2 linked regions of the Homo sapiens genome follow. The protein of the gene in region 2 purifies or fractionates together with the protein of the main gene of each other region. This does not show direct contact. Each region holds a gene or a part of one and is shown on either strand. Other genes may lie near its edges.

Region 1 (4,663 bases), on a different chromosome or scaffold from region 2:
ACTTAGCTTTTCTTGTTCTTTCTGAAGATACGCACCCTAGTAGGCTTACACTGAGTCCCAAACACTCCACTGGGGCTTCAAAACAGGGTCAATTGAGTCTTTATCCTTAATAAAAATATATCAAAATCTCATAATTTTTATATAAAAGAATATGATAAGAAGGAATTTATTTTATAGCCTCTTAATTTTGTAAGGAACTCTAAAAGTGTATTGGAAGTGAACAGAACATTATTCAAAAATGTTATCAATGCATTATAAATGCTTACGAGAAAGACTAAAACTACCATCATTCCTTAAGGTACAGCAAAACAGCATCTGAAATTTGTTTATTCAGACTTTGGAAGCTTCCTGTAATAAGAGGAGGATAAAAGCTTTCTCTCTTCATTTTCTTTAACTATTTAAATGGATAATGAATAGACTTCCCAGTCATATGGGTCATGTTTACTAAGTCTCAACAATACAATCATTGTTAAGAGTAAAAAGCTGCAATTAGCACTAATGAACAAGAAAGACCGAATCAAATGCTGGGTTTCTAGATGAGCATCGTTTGGATTTGGGCCATAATTTTAACAGAGGAGACATTCACATTTGTCCTTGCCCTTGTTCATATTTTTCTTTCCTGTGCTGTTTTATTGATCTGTCTTGAGGTGGCCGTTCTCTTCCCTGTGTCTTTGCATTCTTGCGGCCTGTATATGGCTTTTCTCTCCAATGTACAGGAAGCAGGTAGTGAGCCCCTGAGCTTAGCTCTAGCACTGCCCTGCTTGTTTGTAGCCATTAACTTGAACTTATTCTGGTCTATATGCCACTGGGGGACTGGCCATTATTCTATTAGAAGATAAGGGCTGTAAAGCAGCACAGGCGTTGAATGATCCTTTTTAAAATCCCAGTGGGACATTTAGGATGACAGTAGGAACTACCCTTTTATCTGCCTTGGGAAAGGAGTAGAAAGAAATGTTAGTAAAACCCACCCTGGAGTCTTGGCACAGAGCTAGCCCCCTCCAGTATCCATTCCTCTAGGGTATCTGAAATTCACTAAAAGTCTCTCCTATCAGAGATGATCAACCTTTTTACATATTTACAAAACACAGCTAGAGAGTTGTTTGATAAAGCGTATAACTTTGCATGCAGAGGCTTATTCACATGGCTCTACCCATCCCTTTTTTTTCCCCTCAGTATAGTATTGTCTTCCTTATTCTTCTTTCTTTTTTTAAAAATTCAATTATGAACACCTTTCTCTTTCTACGAATTTATATTCTATTGATACAGCCCCCTCCATGAGAAGTCCAGAAGAGGTACCTATTTTGCAATTTTCAGAGAATAGGGGTCAGTCCTTATCTTAAAAAACCATGTTTTAGCCTTAGAATCATCATGGCAGGTTTCTCAAATACTGATGACCCCACCCATTACTGGGAAAGAATCTCTCAGTGCGGGGGCTGGCATCTGTACTATGATGAAGCTACCTTGGTGATTCTGATGTGTACCTCTGGTTAAGAATCTCGATGTTCAAACAGGCTCCTTGAGGGAGGGGAGGGAGGGAGAGACCTCAACTTTGCTCATGCTGTGTTCTCAGTGCCAGCACAGTGCCCGGCATAAAAAAGACGCCTAATGCCCCTCTGAGGCTTTATTTCCTTAGCTTCCAGGACATGTCTGCTACAGAGTGGGTGCTCAAAAAATATTGAATTATTTGTGACTTTTAAAAAACTTGGATATTAAAAAATTTACAACTGGCTGGGCATGGTGGCTCACACCTGTAATCCCAGCACTTTGGGAGGCAGAGGCGGGTGAATCACCTGAGGTCAGGAGTTCTAGACCAGCCTGGCCAACACGGTGAAACTCCATCTCCACTAAAAATACAAAAATTAGCTAAGTGTGGTGGCACGTGCCTATAATCCCAGCTACTTGGGAGGCCGAGAGGTGAAGGTTGCAGTGAGTCAGGATCACGCCGCTGCACTCCCGTCTGAGTGACAGAGCGAGATCTGTCTCAAAAAAAAAAAAAAAAAAAAATTACAACTCCTGCTGAAATGTCAAATCTCAACCTTGGCCTGAACTTGGGAAAAGACAAGGTTTTTTTTTTTGTTGTGGTTGTTTGTTTGTTTTTGTTGTTTTTTTTTTGATTGCTTAATGGGGATCTGATATTACATGGGGATCTGATATTTGCATTTAATTAAAAAACCCACATTTTAATGAATCATAGTAAACTGGTTTTCTTTATAAATCTTGGCAATTTACTCACCATGTACAGCTGACTCACTTTATCTTGACACTTGACATAGGCTTCGTAGTCTGCAAAGACTTTAAACCTTTTATTTTGTGAGTGGAAGAGGAAAAAAACAGTCAAAATCTTCATTAATAGATATATGCTAAAATTCCATGTAAAATCATCTTTTGCTTAATATCAGGCATGGCTGGTTTACCAAATTCATATTTCTGTTTGTAAGACTTTTAACCAGCCCTCAACCTTCTTATGGTTCTCACATGTGAGAATGTCATCACTGGGATGCATTTGGAAGTTGGGAATATCAGTGGAAGGAGAAAAAGAGAACCAGATTTGTGTGTGTTATTCTTAAACCTTACTGGCATCGCTGGTGGAGAATATCTAACTTTTTCCCCAAGCCTAAACTACCTGAGCAGATCACGCTAATCTATGCTAATCTACATGAGTGGGTTTAAGTTGGTTTAAGATTGGTTTAAGATTTTCTTGTTGGTTTTAGAGTTGGTTGGTTTAAGATTTTCTTGTCCCCCTTTCATGATCCAAATAGCACCATCTTCTTATGGGAACTCACCTGTCATGATAAAATAGCATGTTGATGATATCTTTGAAGAGGTCAGGCTGCTTGGGAGAAAAAAAGCCATTGTCAATTTGATCAATGACCAGCTTCAGCTCTGGAAGTGCCTCATAGTATTCTTTTGCCTCGTACCTGTGGGGTAGGGGTGGGTGGGTGATAAAAAAAGGCTCTGTTATTGTGTTGTGTGATTAACAACACACTAGACACTGCATTCACTGTGAAAAAATACATTCAGAAATACTAGCATTCAAAGACTTCATTATAGATTTCACCATGAGTATATATAACTTTTAACTAGATCTGTAAGTTTTTCTTCCTGTAAATTTGATTCCTTATAACCAAAGACACTAAGAACAATAGATAATGAAAACTCTAGTCAAACATCAAGAGTCTGATGTGGTAGAATACAGCAAGGTCCATTTCAAAGCAGACTTTATGGCTTTAAATGAACATTGTATTAAGTAGATCAGTTGCTTTTTGGATCCACAGATTCTCAAAAGTTGTTGCTACTGAGTGAAACTGACTTCCAAGGGTCAGGAAGTATATTCAACATCCTCCAAATGTTACTTCTTTGGGCAGTACTCTTTATTTTGTGCTTGAACTCAGGTTAATAAACCCATCCAGATATGAAGTGAAAATAAATGTTTCCAATTACTTCTGTACACCCGTATCTATTCTCTATCACATTTTAGTGCATTTCTTTGATATCTTAAAGGAGCACTAGATCATGATTTAAATTATAGGCAACCCTTCCAACTAGAAACTGGTTCATCTTTTGATCAAAGTAAAAATCATACATACGGAGGAAAAATAGCTCTTTGAGGCCAGCTCTGCAATGGCCGATAACAAATAGCAACTCCTCCATGTGTCTGTACTTTTATTTGCTGGGTTTAATAATATTAATCTGTGGCCAGGAGGCTCTCCTGCCTCATCGTGGGAGATGTTCTGCTGCCACCTCTTATGTGATCCAATTTCAGTGGGATATCGGTGTGGGCAGGAAGCCCTCTGAGGTCACATACCTTCTAGGGGGGAGGGGCAGTCCTGCCTAGCAAAGAGAAGCTATTCTCTTACCCTTTCTTGTCCAAAGCAGCCACATCATCTATCCTCATGCCAAAGATGAACAGGTTCTCTTCCCCAGCTTCTTCTGCCATTTCCACATTGGCCCCATCCATGGTCCCGATAGTTAGGGCCCCATTTAGCATGAACTTCATATTGCCTGTCCCCGAGGCTTCGGTGCCTGCAGTGGAAATCTGCTCTGACAGATCTGTGGCTGGAATGACTGCAAGAAAGGTAAGTTAAAATTAGTAATTTTGTCTGTCTAGATCTGCTTGTATTGTATTGAAGCATTTATTAAGTTGGGCTGTTTTGATAATTAAAGTAATACATGCACATTAAGATAAACATTCAAATGGTCTAGAAGGCAGATCACACTCTTTCCCCTTGACTCAGGCAACCACTTTTGTCCATTTTATATGCTTGTATTTCTTTCTCGAGCTATAAACTTTGAAGAGTATCTATTGACTGCGACAAACATTGATACTACATTTCTCTTCTTCCTTTTATTCCTTCCAATTTTTGTTACAGTTTTATTTTTATTTCTTCTACTTTATAAAATATATTGAAATTTCTCTTTTTTTCTTTCTCTTTTTTGGTACAGGGTCTCTCTCTGTCACCCAGGCTGGAGTGCAGTGGTGCGATTACAGCTCTCTGCAGCCTTGACCTCCTAGGCTCAAGCAATCTTCCTGCCCCAGCCTCCCAAGTAGCTGCAATTACAAGCGAGCACCACCATGTCCAGCTAATTTTTTAAAATTTTTGTATGTATGGGGTCTCCCTATGCTGCCCAGGCTGAACTTCTCTCTCTTGATCCATAACATTCA
Region 2 (5,092 bases):
CATATATATATATAGCATTTTGAGATTGGCTTCTTCATAAGTACTCATGATTCCTCCATGTCTTTTTGCAGCTTAATAGCTATTTTATTTTTATTACTAAGTAATATTCCATCATATAAGTATGTATACTAGTTTGTTTATCCATCACTTTTTGAGGAACATCTTGTTTGTTTCTGGTTTTTGGCATTTATAAATAAAGCTGCTATAAACAAAAATTGTACTAGAATAATGAATGAAAACAATACATAATCATTGCTTTATTTGCACTTATTTTATTTGCAAGTGAGGGTAAACAGATTCGCAAGTTACGTAGTCATTACATTTTCTTTTGTCAACTGCCCATAGCTGCTTTTGGACTTTTTTAAAAAAAATTACATCCGCAGCTAGTTCTTATTGAATGCTTACAATGTAAAAGGGACAATGTATACATCCTTTAAACCAATATCTACTTTATGATTTAGTTTTATTATCTAAGACATTTTACAAAGAAATAACAAGTACAGCTTACACAGTTTCCCCTGTCACACATCAAGTATCAAAAACTAATTTAACTGATTTCAAAAATCTATGCACCTAACCACTCTTTTGTATCTTCTCTATTGACCTATTCCTCTATCAATATGTAATATTACATTAACCTCATTTATGTCCTGACATCACCTCTAATCTACAGAATGGACATTTTAATAGTTGCCTAAAACTCAGCATTATTCTCTTCACCTAAAATTTTTTCACCTCAAATCCTCCCCATTTTAGTAAATGACACCAACCATCCACCAGTCCTAAAGTTAACAAAAAAGCTGCAATCTTTATGCTGTCTTTCACTTTCTAGATTACTCTCATCAGCAAATCTTACTAATACTACCTTCGAATGATCTTCCAATGCAATCATTTCTGATTTTTCTGATTATTTCTACTTCTCATAGTCAGGTCCAAGCCACAATCATTCCCTTTCCTGACCAACCTACAACAGTGTACTGTTTTCATATTTTTATTTTTGAGGTATTATATAAAGTGTGAAGTGTATAGACATACAAAATATGTATGTATCAAGGATCAAGAAAAAGAAAACAGCATTTCTAAAGTTTCCCCGTGTTACTTTCCAAACAATATCCTAAAAATAAAAGGGAAAAAAACAAACAATATCCTTTCTTCCTTCCACAGAGATACCTACTATTCAAACTGTAATCACCATAGATAAGTTTTTAGTGCTTTGGAACTTTAGAACTGAATCAGTTTGTACTCATTTCTACCTACATTTACAATCAACATGTTGAGATTAATCCACAGTTTCATATAGCAATTGTGCCTTATTTTATATTATGCTTTATCCAATTGTATGACTACAGCACAAATTATTTATCAATTTTAGCATATTGTAAAGTGAGATCATTTCCAGGCTTTGGCTATTAAGAAGTAGCCACTAACTTTATTACACGTTTTTTTGTTTTTTGTTTTTTTTGTCTTTTCTAGCTTATTGTTGGTAGAAAAACAGGCTAACACTTTGAATAAACATCTCACAAACTGCTGCTCCTAGATTACAAAAAGTCAAAGCCAATTATCTTTGACACTGAGCCCTTGAATCCTGACATTCAAGTCACAATAATAGAAACCGGAGCTGCTGTACCTTACATTCTGGAAGATGCCTCAACAAAAGCACGTTAAGGACTGTTTAAAACTTCTATTATTTAAAAAGATCCACCTTTCCTCCCATTGCCTATGGAAAATAATAAAAGGAGAATCTCAGAGATCTGCTATTGAGTTTGAGAAGGCCAAGTTTAATGATTCCAAAATGTAGCCTTAAAAACTTCTGGAGAGACTCAGATAAATGACCTCCCCCTCCTCTCCTCTCCCACTGGCCTCTTCAAGTACAGATGATGCATGTATTTCCGGAACCCAGGTAGGACTAGTCAAACAGTCTCATGCTTCTCTAAAAGGCTTCTGGTGTAAGCAGTTTTAATTTATTTTAGTTTTTGCCAATCTTCAGTCCTTAGAAAAGTGTTTTTTTGTTAAAAAAAAAAAAAAAGGGGGGGATAACTATTCTAAGGTATTCAACAAGAAAAGGAAATAGTTATCTTTTATGAAAAGGACTTTCAAGCTCTCTCAGCCCAGTTTAACTGAAACAACTTTACAGAACTATCTTCACATAAAACAGCACCTTACCCCTAGCAGCCGGATGGATGGGATCTACAAACACCGAACATCTCTTAAAATGCGCTCATAGAAACGGTAATACGATGCTCTTTACTTCTTTAAGTCAAATCCACGTTCCTCCGGGCTGCATCCTGAAGAATTAACCGTAGGAGAAACAATAAAGGTCCTCCCGGACAGCCATGAGCAGCCCTGGTGCTCCTCGGAAGCCCCCGAGGCGAGAAGAGAAGGCCACACTGGGAATGTCGTTCTCCGAGGCGGGGTATGGGGAGGGTATGGTTGTGAGCAGGTGGCCATGACGGAGGCTCCAGATTCTCGTGTAGCAGTCCTGGCCCACGGCCGCCACGACTCCTTCTTCTTCGTTCACATGCACGGGTAGGTAGGCGGAGTTATTCACATGACCTTCGTACTGTGTTACACATTTAGTGGCCCTCAAGTCCCACAGCTTGATAGTTCCAGTCATGTCTGATGACACCAGGAATTGGCCATCTTGGAGGATTTGCAGAGAAGTCACTGCTGAATCATGGGACAGGCAAATGGCCTTCCACCCGCTGCCTTGATTTCCACAGCGCAGATCAATGCCAAAGATCTCCCCAGAGCGACAGCCATTAAACAGCAAAGGAGTCATGATTGCAAACTGCTGGGCCAAGACATCACTGCTAGTCCCAAATGACTGCTGGTGTCCCGTCACCACGTTGGTCAACAGGACCTGCTGAGACAAGCCTGTACTGAAAGAGTGATACGCGTGGATGCTCAGGGACCAGGCACAGGACCAGGCATCAGGGATCTGGAAACTGCAAAGCATGCCAGGCCGACGCATTCCTGGGAAGCTACCTATGAACAGCGACGCTGGGAGCAGCACGGCACAGCTTGGAGTATCTGCAAGTCCCACGAAGCACAGCAGAAGGTGGGAATCCAAGTGATTCAGTGAGGCCCAGCACATAGAATTCACCTTCCGATTAGGGACGTAGAGGGTTTTGTGCGGGTATACCCGGAGCTCAGGGGTCGTCAGGCCTCGCATGGTGATGATGCCGTACTTGGAGCCTCCAGCTTCGACTTGGTTCACTGTGAAGAGCTGGTCAGTGTTGGTATTCGCCAGTATGCGGTTAAATCGGTCGCTTGCCAAAGAGGAGGGATCCCAGCTATGAATCTGGACCTTTTTCCTCTGCATGCAGCTTACACGCAGCTCGCGAGCTATACGGCAATAGTTGGCGAATCTGAGGAAACCTAGCTGGTTCTTTCGTAGCATGGAAGGTGCATTGAGTCCCACTCTGACTGTCTTTTTCTGCTTGTCTGCTTCCTCGAGCAGTCGCGGTCTTTTGCTCTCCATTTCGTTCGGCGGATGTTCTCCCTCCTGAGGGGAAGTTCTGTCCCGGGAGTAAGAGGAAGTACCGCTTCTTTACAAGCACGACTTGGCACGGAAGAACTTCCCGCTGCGCCTGCGCCTGTGCGTATGAGGTCGACCCGGACGAGATTCTTCGTCGCCTTGGCCCAAATCCCGAATGCTCTGAGGTGCCCTGACATAACTCTCGTTAGAATCGCGTGATCTGAAACAAGAGTTCCGCTGCTTCTCTCGAGTTTTCCCCTACTCAGACAGCTGCTTTTATTCATTTCTATTCCTGTTTAGAGATTCTTTTCCGACCCCTCTTACACACGTCATAATAGCTGTATGCATACATTTCTCTTATTTACTAAGAAGTGAAATTGGCCCAGCACTTTGGGAGGCCGAGGTGGGCGTATTACGAGGTCAGGAGTTCGAGACCAGCCTGGCCAATATGGTGAAACCCTGTCTCTACTAAAAATACAAAAATGAGCCGGGCATGGTGGCGCGCGCCTGTAGTCCCAGCTACTCGGGAGGCTAAAGCAGAAGAATCGCTTGAACGCAGGAGGCGAAGGTTGCAGTGAGCCGAGATAGCCCCACTGCACTTCAGCCTGGGCGACAAAGGGAGACACCGTCTCAAAAAAAAAAAATTTGAAAGTGGAGGGTTATTAGGTAGACATATATAGCTTAAGTAGATATTGACAAACCAATTACACTCTTGTCAAAATATGGCTTAAGTAGATATTGACAAACCAATTACACTCTTGTCAAAAGTGTATATATATCCTTGCCAATTCTTGTTGGTCAGTTTACATTTTAGATATAAATAATTTATAATTGTTTTTGTCTTCCTGTTGAAAGATTGCCATTATTATTATAAAATATTCCTTTTTAACTTTTATTTATTGATTGACTTTATTTTATTTTTGTGAGATGGAGTCGCGCTCTGTCGCCCAGGCTGGACTGCAGTGGCGTGATCTCGATTCACTGCAAGCTCCGCCTCCCGGGTTCACGCCATTCTCCTGCCTCAGCCTCCTGAGTAGCTGAGACTACAGGCGCCTGCCACCATGCCTGGCTAATTTTTTGTATTTTTAGTAGGGATGGAGTTTCACCATGTTAGCCAGGATGGTCTTGATATCCTGACCTTGTGATCCACCTGCCTTGGCCTCCCAAAGTGCTGGGATTACAGGCATGAGCCACTGCGCCCGACCAACTTTTATTTATTTTATTTTATTTTATTTTATTTTATTTTACTTTATTTTATTTTTTGAGACGGAGTCTCGCTCGTCACCCAGGCTGGAGTGCAATGGCTCTATCTCAGCTCGCTGCAAGCTCCACCTCCCGGGTTCAGGCCATTCTCCTGCCTCAGCCTCCCAAGTAGCTGGGACTACAGGCTCCGCCACCATGCCCGGCTAATTTTTTTGTATTTTTGGTAGAGATGGGGTTTCACCATCTTAGCCAGAATGGTCTCGATCTCCTGATCTGGTGATACACCCGCCTCAGCCTCCCAAAGTGCTGGGATTACAGGCTTGAGCCACCGCGCCTGGCCCAACTTTAATTTTTTTAAATCTGTGTTCTCTGATATTAAAGTATCCTTATCCTTAAACCCTTCTTGTCTAA

The links.
Region 1: the proteins of DCAF4L2 (region 2) and PYGL purify together in Homo sapiens (affinity purification with mass spectrometry; 3 studies listed by BioGRID and IntAct, with this or other methods). This does not show direct contact.

The regions. Positions count from the first base shown.
Region 1 is NC_000014.9:50,906,038-50,910,700, forward strand, and holds part of PYGL (glycogen phosphorylase, liver form), read right to left. Parts: intron 4,066-4,663; coding exon 3,858-4,065; intron 2,919-3,857; coding exon 2,784-2,918; intron 2,301-2,783; coding exon 2,234-2,300; intron 1-2,233. UniProt on the Homo sapiens protein: Allosteric enzyme that catalyzes the rate-limiting step in glycogen catabolism, the phosphorolytic cleavage of glycogen to produce glucose-1-phosphate, and plays a central role in maintaining cellular and organismal glucose homeostasis.
Region 2 is NC_000008.11:87,870,491-87,875,582, forward strand, and holds DCAF4L2 (DDB1- and CUL4-associated factor 4-like protein 2), read right to left. Parts: upstream 3,526-5,092; 5' UTR 3,482-3,525; coding exon 2,294-3,481; 3' UTR 257-2,293; downstream 1-256.